Regions from separate parts of the Homo sapiens genome. Here all the other regions are linked to region 1. Evidence: fine-mapped expression QTL. A gene starts in region 1. Each other region holds a variant in brackets. All regions are shown on one strand. Distances are from middle to middle.

Region 1 (2,686 bases):
TTTAATTTATTTATTTTGAGACGGAGTCTTGCTCTGTCATCATCCAGGCTGGAGTGCAACAGGGTGATCTCAGCTCACTGCAACCTCCGCCTCCTGGATCCAAGCGACTCTCCTGCCTCAGCCTCCCGAGTAGCTGGGATCACAGGCGTCCACGACCACACCTGCCCGGCTATTTTTTGTGTTTTTAGTAGAGACGAGGTTTCGCCATGTTGGCCAGGCTGGTTTCGAACTCCTGACCTCAGGTGATCCACCTGCCTTGGCCTCCTAAACTGCTGGGATTACAGGCGTGAGCCACCGCGCCCAGCCCAGAATATTCAAATTTTAAATAAAGACAGGACCAGTAACAATGTACCCTGTGGAGCCATTTTAAGAGTCTGAGGCGAAAGGAAAAAATAGGACTGAATTTTTTCATTACTTTTGACTTTTTTTAGAGACTGCATTAAAATATTATTTATCTTGATTGCTATTTTGGCAGCCTCTGAAATCCTGTGCTCATGACAAATGCCTCACTGGCCTCACCCTAGTCGCGGCCCGACCCTGCTAACGGTATTTCTAGAAGATGGGCAGAGGACAAGCCAAACCCCGGGAGGGACCACGCGGCCTGGGAAACAGTTCGGCAAGGAGGCCGGGCCCCTGTCCCGCCTCTGAGGGCGGAGGACTCGGCCTGCACCGGACCCAAGCGAGGGGCAGTCTGGCCTCTGCTGGCAGAAGCAGCGCTTCCAAGTATTTTCATATGGTGACTTTGCAGAGCTGCGCGGTCCAGACGAGGGTTTCAGGCTGCAAAGCGGGAAAGTCTTGGGGGCCGCTCTGCGCTCCAAGACAGACGCCCACAATCTCTTCTACGTCGTGCAACATTCAAGCAGGCGGCCTCCTTCCCGCGCTTTCGCGCCCACAGGCTGGGCCAATCACAGTGCCGCACTTTTCATACTGCCCGACAGGCGGTGGGCGGGCCGCTGGTGACTGTTACCCAACAGGCGCCGCGGCTGCTCCGGTGGCGCCACTGACTCGGAGGCGGCTGCGGAGAGCGGGGCGCTGGCCCGTGGAGGCGGCAGCGGCGGCGGCTTTCTAGCGGATCCGAGGTGCGACGGACAGAGACGCGGGGCGGCAGGTCGGGCGGCGAAGCCGGCGAGGGCGAGGCCATGGGCTTGAGCGGTCGGGGTTGGCGAACCCCGCGTGTGGCCGGTCCCGGCGGCGAGGCCCGTCCCGCTGAAGCACGCGGGGACTCCGAACGGCGGTGTAGGCGAGGCCAGCGAGGCGGGCGGGGGACTGGCGCGTTCCTTGGGCGGCACTGGAGTTCCGGCGCCCTCATAGCGGGCGCCGACACCGCAAAAGTCGTTCTCGAACGAAGTCGCGGGGCCGGTCTCCCAAACTTGGTTATGTCCCCGGGGAAAGCTAGAAATTCGCACATATGCTTCTTCTTGCCGTGGAGACTGATGGAGCCTCTGCTGCGGGGCGGGGACTCTAGCGAGAGGGGGACGTGAAGTTCGTTCCGTACTCAGGCGTGTGTGCCCCTGACCGACGCGTAGGACGCCCTGGAGGACGGCGCCAGCTCCTGACCTAGTGTGAGGTGCCCGGACGGTTTCCCTAAGAAGCGCGTATTTAAGATGAGATCTGAAGTTGAGCGTGAACTCAAGGTGGGGTAGGGGGTGGGCAGGCGAGAGAACGCACAGGGCCTGACTTTTTGCATTTTTTTAGTAGAGACGGGGTTTCAACGTGTTAGCCGGGATGGTCTCGATCTCGGTCTCTATCTCCTGACCTCGTGATCATCCCGCCTCAGCCTTCCAGAGTGCTGGGATTACAGGCGTGAGCCACCGCGCCCGGCCAGGGCCTGACTTTTTAAGGAAATGGAAAGGAGGGTGTATCTGGAAGACACCAAGTGCCAAGGCTAACACAGAGCCCGGACCGTTGTAGGGTTTTACAGGACTTATTCAGATTTTAATCTGTCTGAAAACAGTGACAGTCCGTTGCTGAGTTTTAAGCAGGAGCGTAACTGATTCGATAAGCATTTTAGAAAGATTATTCTGGCCAGATGTGAGGTGATTGTCTGCATAGCTGTGAGAGTCAGGAGTTAAAATTGACAAGACCTCAGGGATAAGGGAGGTGTCAAGGGCGAGTCCTGTGGTTTCTGGCGATACCATTCCCTGGAGTTTCGTGCACTGGAGGAAATAGTTCGGTAAGTGAGAACTCAAAGAAAATAATAAAAATGGGCATGTACCTAGGAGTGGAATTGCTGGATCATGTGGTTGTCTTGTGTTTAACTTTCTGAGGAAGTGCCAGACTTCTCCAGAGTGGCTGCACCATGTTACATTCCCATCGGCAATGGATGAAGGTTCTGATTTCTCCATGACCTGCTCAACACTGTTGTTACTGTTATTGTTATTGTCATCCTAGTGGGTGTGAAGTGATATCTTTTGGTTTTGATTTGCATTTCCTTCATGACTCTTGATAAATTGAGCATATTTTCATGTGTTTATTGGCCATTTGTATATCCTCTTTGTCAAGTCATTTGCTCATTCTTAATATTGGGTTGTTTGCCTTTTTATTGTTCAGTTGTAAGAGTTTTTTCTATATTCTAGATAATAGACCTCTATCGCATACATGATCTGCAAGTACTTCCGTTATACTAAAATTTTCTCTTTGGCAAACGTTTTTAACTTTGGGTGTCTTCATATTTAAGAATGAAGCT
Region 2 (2,686 bases), 33 kb before region 1:
TTACCTCATATGAGTCTTTGATCTTGAACCGATACTTTTGGATCTCATTGTTGATATACCTGAATTTACTTTGTAAGAGATTTTAACTTCACTTCATGCTGATGATGTATCAAATTCATTTTATAGAAAGATTTAAAGTTTTTTTCTGGAAGTGATATATGTCAAATTACATTTCCTACTGCAGTATTTGAGCAGGGACAGTCATTTTTTAAATGTTTTTGGCCGGGCGTGGTGGCTCATGCCTGTAATCTCAGTACATTGGGAGGCCAAGGCAGGTGGATCACCTGAGGTCAAGAGTTCGAGGCCAGCCTGGCCAACATGGTGAAACCCTGTCTCTACTAAAAATACAAAAAATTGGCCGGGCGTGATGGTGGGCGCCTGTAATCCCAGCCACTCCAGAGGCTGAGGCAGGAGAATCGCTTGAACCTGCGAGGCAGAGATTGCAGTGAGCCAAGATCAAGCCATTGTACTCCAGCCTGGACAACAAGAGCGAAACTCTGTCTAAAAAAAAAAAAAAAAACACACACACACACAACACAATGTTTTCACGCCTGTAAACCTAGCACATTGGGAAGCCAAGGTGGGAGGATTGCTTGAGGCCAGGAGTTCAAGGCTGCAGTGAGCTATGATTGCACACTGTACTCTAGCCTGGGAGACAGAGTGAGACACTGTCTCTAAAAAAAAAAAAAAAAAAAAAAAAAGTTTTTGAACCTTAAAATACTTTGTTTGAATTTCTAATCATCATTCAAAAGAGCAGTAAAAAATGGTTACTTGTTCTTGTACAAGCTACTAATTAGACTATAGTAGGATATTTTAAAGAGCTGAATCACTTTTGGTATTTTGGTATAAATATTTTCATTTGTTATGTCCCAGTATATTCTTACTGGAAAATTCTTGTTTTGATCTGCCTGAAGAAAATATCTGTTTTCTATATAAAAAAATTTTTTAAAATAATTGTAAAGTTAGATTTAAAATTGTAAAATATAAAATCACAAAGGAATGTACCTTATGAATGTTGTTGACATTTTATGAAATTATGTGGATTCATATTACTGTTACAAGATAGAATTGAATGCAAAAAGACCAAAACCTCAATAAAATTTGAGGAAAACGTGTTATTATGTAATTGAAATAAAAACATTTTATAATTGTGCAAGCCTGTGGTTCCACTCTTTGGGCTGCTTGAAGTCTGAGTCTGACTACTGTTGTATGTAATACCACCTTTGAGTAATATCTGCTTGGGGGTTGCTGATTCCTATTGGGGTTCCGTGGAAGACCCACGCCTGATGCCCTCCCTCAGTAAGGAATGCACTTCCCTCCTGGCATCGAGCCTGGGGCTAGCATGGGCATTACTGGGAGAACTGAGACGATTGTCACGCACCATCCCC[T/C]GTGATCTGTGGTTCTGATGTGCAGCCTCAGCTGAAAACGGTCTTCACCTGTGGCTGTGCTTACCTGCGCCACTACTTACAGTGTTTTGAAGAGCAGGATGAAAACGGCAAAAACCTTGACTGTTTCTGCTCAAGTGTCCTGAAGTAGAGGATGGTGGGGATGATAAATGCTTGCTAGGAAATAAGTCCAAGGGCTCTATAGGACTTCACAGGGTTTTAGTTTATGTCTCTAACTTTAGCAAAGCTGCATTCCTATTGGAATGCATACTGGAAACAGCTCTCATTCCTACCTTTAAAGGGCTCTTGGAAAGCAGTGTGACAACCAAGGTCACTAAATGGTGAGATCATCAAGCCATTTTAAGTTCTTTCTCATGTTATTCACCAGCACCCTGCAGGACGTTGGGCACACATCACATCCCTCAGCTCAGCCATCCAGCCGTCTCAGTGATTCACCACTCATTTGCTTAATTAATAGACAGGTTTGATCACTTTGTACATGGAAGGCACTGTGCCAGTGAACAAGCAGTTGGACCCAGCCCTCCAGTAGGGAATGGACAGCTGAAAATCCATGAGCAAGAAAGAAGGAAAAAGAAAGAGTTCTGAGCAGCCAAACCATTTCTCGATGATTTCAGAGCCTTCATTCTGAGCATCAGTTATATGCTCTCCAGTGTAATGACTTTATAGCCAAGCACAGTAATTGATATTACTGTGAAGGCCCTTAACTTATCAAGAAATGGTTGAGGCCGGGCACATTGGCTCATGCCTATAATCCCAGCACGTGGGAGGCCGAGGCAGGCAGATCACTTAAGCCCAGGAGTTCAAGCCCAGCCTGGGCAACATGATGAAAGCCCATCTCTACAAAAAAAATATACAAACAATTAGCCAGGCATGGTGGCATGTGCATGTAGTCCCATGTAGTCCCAGCTACTTAGGAGGCAGAAACACCTGAGCCTGGGAGGTCGAGGCTGCAGTGAATTGTGCTCACACCACTGCATTCCAGCCTGGGTGATGGAGTGAAACCCTGTCTCAAAAAAAAAGAAAGAAAAGAAAAAGAAAGTTGACTTAGCTATACTCCATATAAGAAGGTATAGAAATATATAGAGCAATTTAGAAAGATTATAGTGTCAAAAGATTCAAACTCAGAAAAGAATTGAAAGGTTGCCTGCCAGCCATATCCCCAGACGAACCTAGACCACTGGGGTTTCACTATCATACAGAATAGAGAAAAACATTGGTTACTGACACCTGAAATCAAAAAGCTTGGATATTTTTCAGTCCCAAACCAGAACATAGCTCCC
Region 3 (2,686 bases), 20 kb before region 1:
TTGGACAGTAGTATTCAGGGACATGCAATTCTGTGTGGTGGTCATTTTCCTCAATGATTATAGCGATTATGCCACCATCTGCTGGCTTCCATTGAGCTGTTGAGAAAGTTGTTGTTTTAACGGTCGGTCCTTTGTAGGGACCTTTTTTTTTCTTCTCTAGTTTCTTTCAGGTTCTGTTTGTCTTTGATTTTCTACAGTTTTACTGTTAGATGTAGTTTATTGGAATCTTTCTGCTTGAGATATATAGTGTTTCTTGGATCTGTGAAGTCTTTTTAAAAATTGATTTTGGAAAATATTCAACCATTAACTCCTTAAATAATTCCTCTTTTTTAGTCTCTCCACTTTCCCCTCTGGAACTCTAATCAGAGGATGTTAGAGATTCTCATTGTCTCCACATTTTTTAACCATCTCTCTTTCATGTTTTCTATCTCCTTACCTCTCTCTATTGGATAATGCCTAAAGTTTTTGCAAAGATTTTCCAGTTCACCATTTTTTTTAAAAAGTGTCTTCATTGTTGATAGTTTCTTGCTGCATGTTCATGTATGTCCTCTTTTTAAATTGTATTCTTATTCTTTAAATATTTCATACACAGCTGTTTGGTTTTCTGTATCTGACAACTGAAACATGCTCAGTCTTTGGGGGTCTAATTCTGTCATTTATTGCTTCTGTTGACTCTCACTCAAATGGTTTGTCACCTTAGTGTTTTGTGAGCTTATGCTTGATTTTAATTTGTAGGAATAACTCCAGGCTTAACTTGTGGAAACTTCCTGCAAAAAGGGCTTGCTTCTGCCTCTGCTAGTGAGGTGGGGTCGGGACTTCTGTCCCAGGACCCAAACAAGCTTCCTTGAGTGTTTTGGGTCGAAAGCAGAGCCATAGACCCTGTTCTTGTCACCCCTCCAAAACCACGTTCTCCCAGCTTAGGGCACCCCACTCTGCCCTGCTGCCTGTGGGTCCAGATGATGCCCTGCTAATGTGGCTTCTGCAGCTCGTCTTCTGCCTGACTCTCAGGCTCCATGGCCCTGGCTCCCAGGTGTGGCCGTCTTGGCCTCAGGCATTCCTGCCTTGGACTCTGGCTGCCAGGGCTGTGGGGACCACCTTCGCCATGCAGTCCAGGCTCAGC[T/A]CTTGTTGTTTGTGTTTGTTTACCTCATGCCTCACTTACCTTTTGTGAAACCATCAGGATCCCCACTGGGCGTGTGGCTCACGCCTGTAATCCCAGCACTTTGGGAGGCCGAGGTGGGTAGATCACCTGAGGTCAGGAGTTCAAGACCAGCCTGACCAACATGGTGAAACCCCATCTCTAATAAAATACAAAAAATTAGCCAGGTGTGGTGGTGTGCACCTGTAGTCTCAGCTACTCAGGAGGCTGAGACAAGAGAATTGTTTGAACCCAGAAGGCGGAGGTTGCAGTGAGCCAAGATCACACCGTTATACTCTGGCCTGGGTGACAGAGCGAGACTTTGTCTCAAAAAAAAAAACAAACAAAAAAAGAGGCCGAGCGTGGTGGCTCATGCCTGTAATCCCAGCACTTTGGGAGGCCAAGGCGGACAGATCACGAGGTCAGGAGATCGAGACCATCCTGGCCAACATGGCAAAACCCCGTCTCTACTAAAATACAAAAAATTAACTGAGGGTGGTGGCGCACACCTGTAGTCCCGGGAGGCTGAGGCAGGGGAATCGCTTGAACCCGTGAGGCGGAGCTTGCAGTGAGCCGAGATCACGCCACTGCACTCCAGCCTGGGCGACTGAGCGAGATTCCATCTCAAGAAAAAAAAAAGAAAACCATCAGGATCCCCAAGGGTGTTCCCTCTCTGGAGTCCAGTTGTTTCAGAGGAGGAAGGGCATCATGAGGGACCAGGGGCCAAGTTATCATTTTATTTTTCAGTAGGATTGGAATTTCGGTAACACAGAACCCTGTTATGTTTGGAGGAAACAAGTTCCTTAAAGCTCACTGCCTTTCCTCCGTTCCCAGCTCCGCTCTGCATTGGATAAAACAGAAGAGCTCGAGGTGAGCAACGGCCACTTAGTGAAGCGTCTGGAAAAAATGAAAGCAAATCGGAGTGCACTCTTGTCCCAGCAGTAAATTCCAGCTCTGATCAGGCAACTGGTTGGTGACTGGAGAGCATTGTTTCATAGGCTTTTCTCTGTCCTATCTGGGAGCGCTGCTTCTTCCCCTGCCTTCCGAGAGACGAAGACCGTGGCGAGCTTGGCGCTTAGGGGCTCCCGTGCCATGGCTCACCCCAGGGAGCCCCAGCAGCCACCAGGTGCCTCTGTCTGCAGACCCCTGGCCCGGGCTGGCGCCGACGCTCAGAACCTGCAGGTACTTCATAAGCACACAGGGGCCTCGAGGGAGCTCTGTGTCTGACCGCACAGCAGCCTCTGAATGCCGCTGGAAGTGATGATCAAAGTAAAGATTCAGTTGGGACTTGAGTTTTTTTTTTTTTTCATGTGTCTTGCTGAAGATTAAGGGGAAATGTTACAGTGTTGGGACTTCCTTTCATGGCAGAATCTACAATTTGAGCGACTTCAGTAGTATCTCTTAGTCTACGCTTTTCATACACAAAACACTGTGGAACCACAAGCCATTACCAAGCAAAACTCTTTCACTGGAAACAAGGGGGCAGTCTAGAAGTAAAAGTGACCTTAAGAAGACTCTTTACAGGCAACAAATGAAGCTTTTCTAAGGGAT
Region 4 (2,686 bases), 27 kb before region 1:
GCGGATCACTTGAGGTCAGGAGTTCAAGAGCAGTCTGCCAACATGGTGAAACCCCGTCTCTACTAAAAATACAAAAATTAGCCGGGTGTGATGGTGCGCGCCCGTAATCCCAGCTACTGGGGAGGCTGAGGCAGGAGAATCGCTTGAACCCGGGAAGCAGAGGTTGCAGTGAGCCGAGATCGCACCACTGCACTCCAACCTGGGTGACAGAGCAAGACTCCATCTCAAAAACAAAGAAACACTGAACAGTTATCCTATCTGATCTTTTTATATGCAGGATAGTGATTAAATCACTCTACAACCACTTTCCTCTAATTTCTCCTCATAAGCCTAATCAAATGTATTTGCCTTACTTCCTACCATTCTGTTGAAGATTCTCCGAAAATTGGAGAAAGCACTAAATATGGTAGGAAGATTCTCTTGAAGTTCCTGTGATCTTTTGAAACTGCATTCCTGAGTTCTATCCTTACTTCCTTAAAGCAGCATGCACTTTTGGTTTGTTGTTAATCAGGGGTCTCCTGTGCTTGGTGTGTGGGGTAGGAAGGCAGGTGATCACCTGCAACAATTCTTCACAGATTGGAAGTTAAACATGAAAAGCCCCCGGAGACCCCACGAACTAGATGCCAGAAAGTTCTGCAGTCATTGACTGTTAACTGCAATTCCAACTATACGGTCAGCCCTCCATATCCATGGGTTCCATATCCGTGGATTCAACCAACATGGATTGAAATATTCCAAAAAAAAAAAAAAAAAACCCATAAATTCCGCAAAGTTCCAAAAAGCATAGCTTGAATTTGCCCTGCACGGAGTCCTGCACTGAATCCACACAAATGAAGTGAGTTGTAGGCGTTGGGTATTAAAAGGAATCTAGAGGTGATTTAAAGTGTACCGGAGAATGCAGGTAGGTTTCTGCAAATACTGCACCATTTTATATCAGGGACTTGAGCATCCACAGATTTGGTGTCTGAGGGGTCCTGGAACCAATCCCCCCCCCCCCCCGCCCAGATACCAAGGGACAACTGGACATGTTTCTGTCTTGCTTAGAGAGGGGAAAGCTAGCTAGAGACCAACTCCCTGAAAGCTGGCAAACCGCCTCTGAACACACCTGCAGCTGGCCTGGACGCTGAGAAAGCACTCGACTTTTGGGGGACTTAATTACAATATATTGGAGCCCAGAAGGCTCCAAGTGGCCCTTTCTGGTTTCTTAGTAAATAAAGAGAAAGTGAATAGCA[T/C]GGTGACTTACTGAGTCTTAAACATTGCAGGTATTTCATGTACAGTCTCCTCCTGAGTCCTAGAAGAATTTCACTTTAGAAATGACTTTTCTCTCAGAGTTACAGTGTAATTCATTTTTCATTCATTGTACATTGAATTGTGTTTCTGAGAAGAGTACTGATGGACACAAAGTGCCTTCTGTCATTTGACATGCTGCTTCCTTTCTGATGGGCTCTAACTTCAGCTTTTCGGTCTCATTCAGAGTAGAGAAATTAACAGATTTTACTGGCGGGTGTTTTCAGATTAAGAAACTCAAAGGGCAGCTGGAGGAGAGACAGAAGATTGGCAAACTAGACAATCTTCGATCTGAAGATGATGTCTTGGAAAACGGGACAGACATGCATGTAATGGACCTACAAAGTAAATGTCAATTCTTGTGTAGAAGTAAATGCTTTCACATGTGCTGTTTTAGTATACTTGTGCTGGCAGAGAAAACTGTCACGGCAAAGAATGCCCTCATTCCCTCACATCCCCACAAAAGCCCTTAAAAATAAAAGCACAAGGAGGGGTAGGTAGACAGAACAATGGTGTTTCTCTCTGAGCCTATGAAATAGAACAGGTACCCAAAAACGTGCACCAAGATACCACCACATGTTGTGCCGATGGAAACCACATTTACTTTGCTGGATACAGCAATCTTTCGATCTGTTGATTGTATGAAAAAAAAAAAATGAAAGGCTTTTTTCATGCTAATAAACTAGAAACAGTCTTAAGGGAGATAAAATTATGCCCAGTCTCTCTCCGCCCTTTTCCCTACCCCCTACCATCTCTTTGTCTTCTTCACTCATAGGCACTCTCTTGCCTGAGGTTTCCTGCCCCAAGCACAGGGGCGGAAGGCACTTTCCCTGGGTTCATGGGGAGAGAGTGCCTTCTCCTACTCTCAGCTCTGGGAGGTTGTGGAGGCAGGGCCAGAACTAACAGATTTGTGAGATGATTACAAAGTAAGGGCTTGGTTCCCAGTAACTATTGTTTTAATATTTGAAAAGCCCAAGAGCTTAACAGATTTTCCTTCTCTTTCAACCTTTAGGGGATGCCAACAGACAGATCAGCGACCTCAAATTTAAACTTGCAAAATCTGAGCAAGAGATAACTGCATTAGAACAAAATGTACGTGTAAGCAACAACGGGCAGAACTGATGATTGACTGGAGTTTTACTTGCTAGAAATAGCCCTGAAAGGCTGAGGACCAGAAAAAGCCGAGATTTTTAGAACCAAGAAATGTCCTAAGAGGGATAAGTTAAGACAGCAAGTCTTTCCATCCGTTTCTTACAGAGCAAGCAGGAAGGAAAGAATTCTTAGAATTTAAGTTGTTACAGTAGATACTAATCCTTTATCAACAACAGTTAGTTGTAGAAAATAGCTAATGTGGCTTGGGAGTGTTTTAAAATTTTGTTCTTTAAAATTAATTTAGTTA

The links.
Region 2: its variant is fine-mapped to the expression of RBM44 in blood mononuclear cells (TOPMed, PIP 0.97).
Region 3: its variant is fine-mapped to the expression of RBM44 in tibial artery (GTEx, PIP above 0.99). The same link has a PIP of 0.9 or more in cerebellum, ileum, lung and transverse colon.
Region 4: its variant is fine-mapped to the expression of RBM44 in whole blood (TOPMed, PIP above 0.99).

Annotation. Positions count from the first base shown.
Region 1 is chr2:237,797,783-237,800,468 of GRCh38, forward strand. It overlaps RBM44 (RNA binding motif protein 44), which reads left to right and starts at 997. Exons shown (of 16, transcript NM_001080504.3): 1 at 997-1,079.
Region 2 is chr2:237,764,760-237,767,445 of GRCh38, forward strand. The region is part of intron 19 of LRRFIP1 (LRR binding FLII interacting protein 1); the gene reads left to right. Among named protein-coding and RNA genes, the nearest start is that of RBM44, 33 kb to the right of the region's middle. The variant T/C (reference allele first, on the strand shown) is at 1,389.
Region 3 is chr2:237,777,453-237,780,138 of GRCh38, forward strand. LRRFIP1 (LRR binding FLII interacting protein 1) reads left to right here. Exons shown (of 24, transcript NM_001137550.2): 24 at 1,970-2,686. The coding sequence ends at 2,080. Among named protein-coding and RNA genes, the nearest start is that of RBM44, 20 kb to the right of the region's middle. The variant T/A (reference allele first, on the strand shown) is at 1,121.
Region 4 is chr2:237,770,567-237,773,252 of GRCh38, forward strand. It overlaps LRRFIP1 (LRR binding FLII interacting protein 1), which reads left to right. Exons shown (of 24, transcript NM_001137550.2): 21 at 1,515-1,632; 22 at 2,300-2,379. Among named protein-coding and RNA genes, the nearest start is that of RBM44, 27 kb to the right of the region's middle. The variant T/C (reference allele first, on the strand shown) is at 1,233.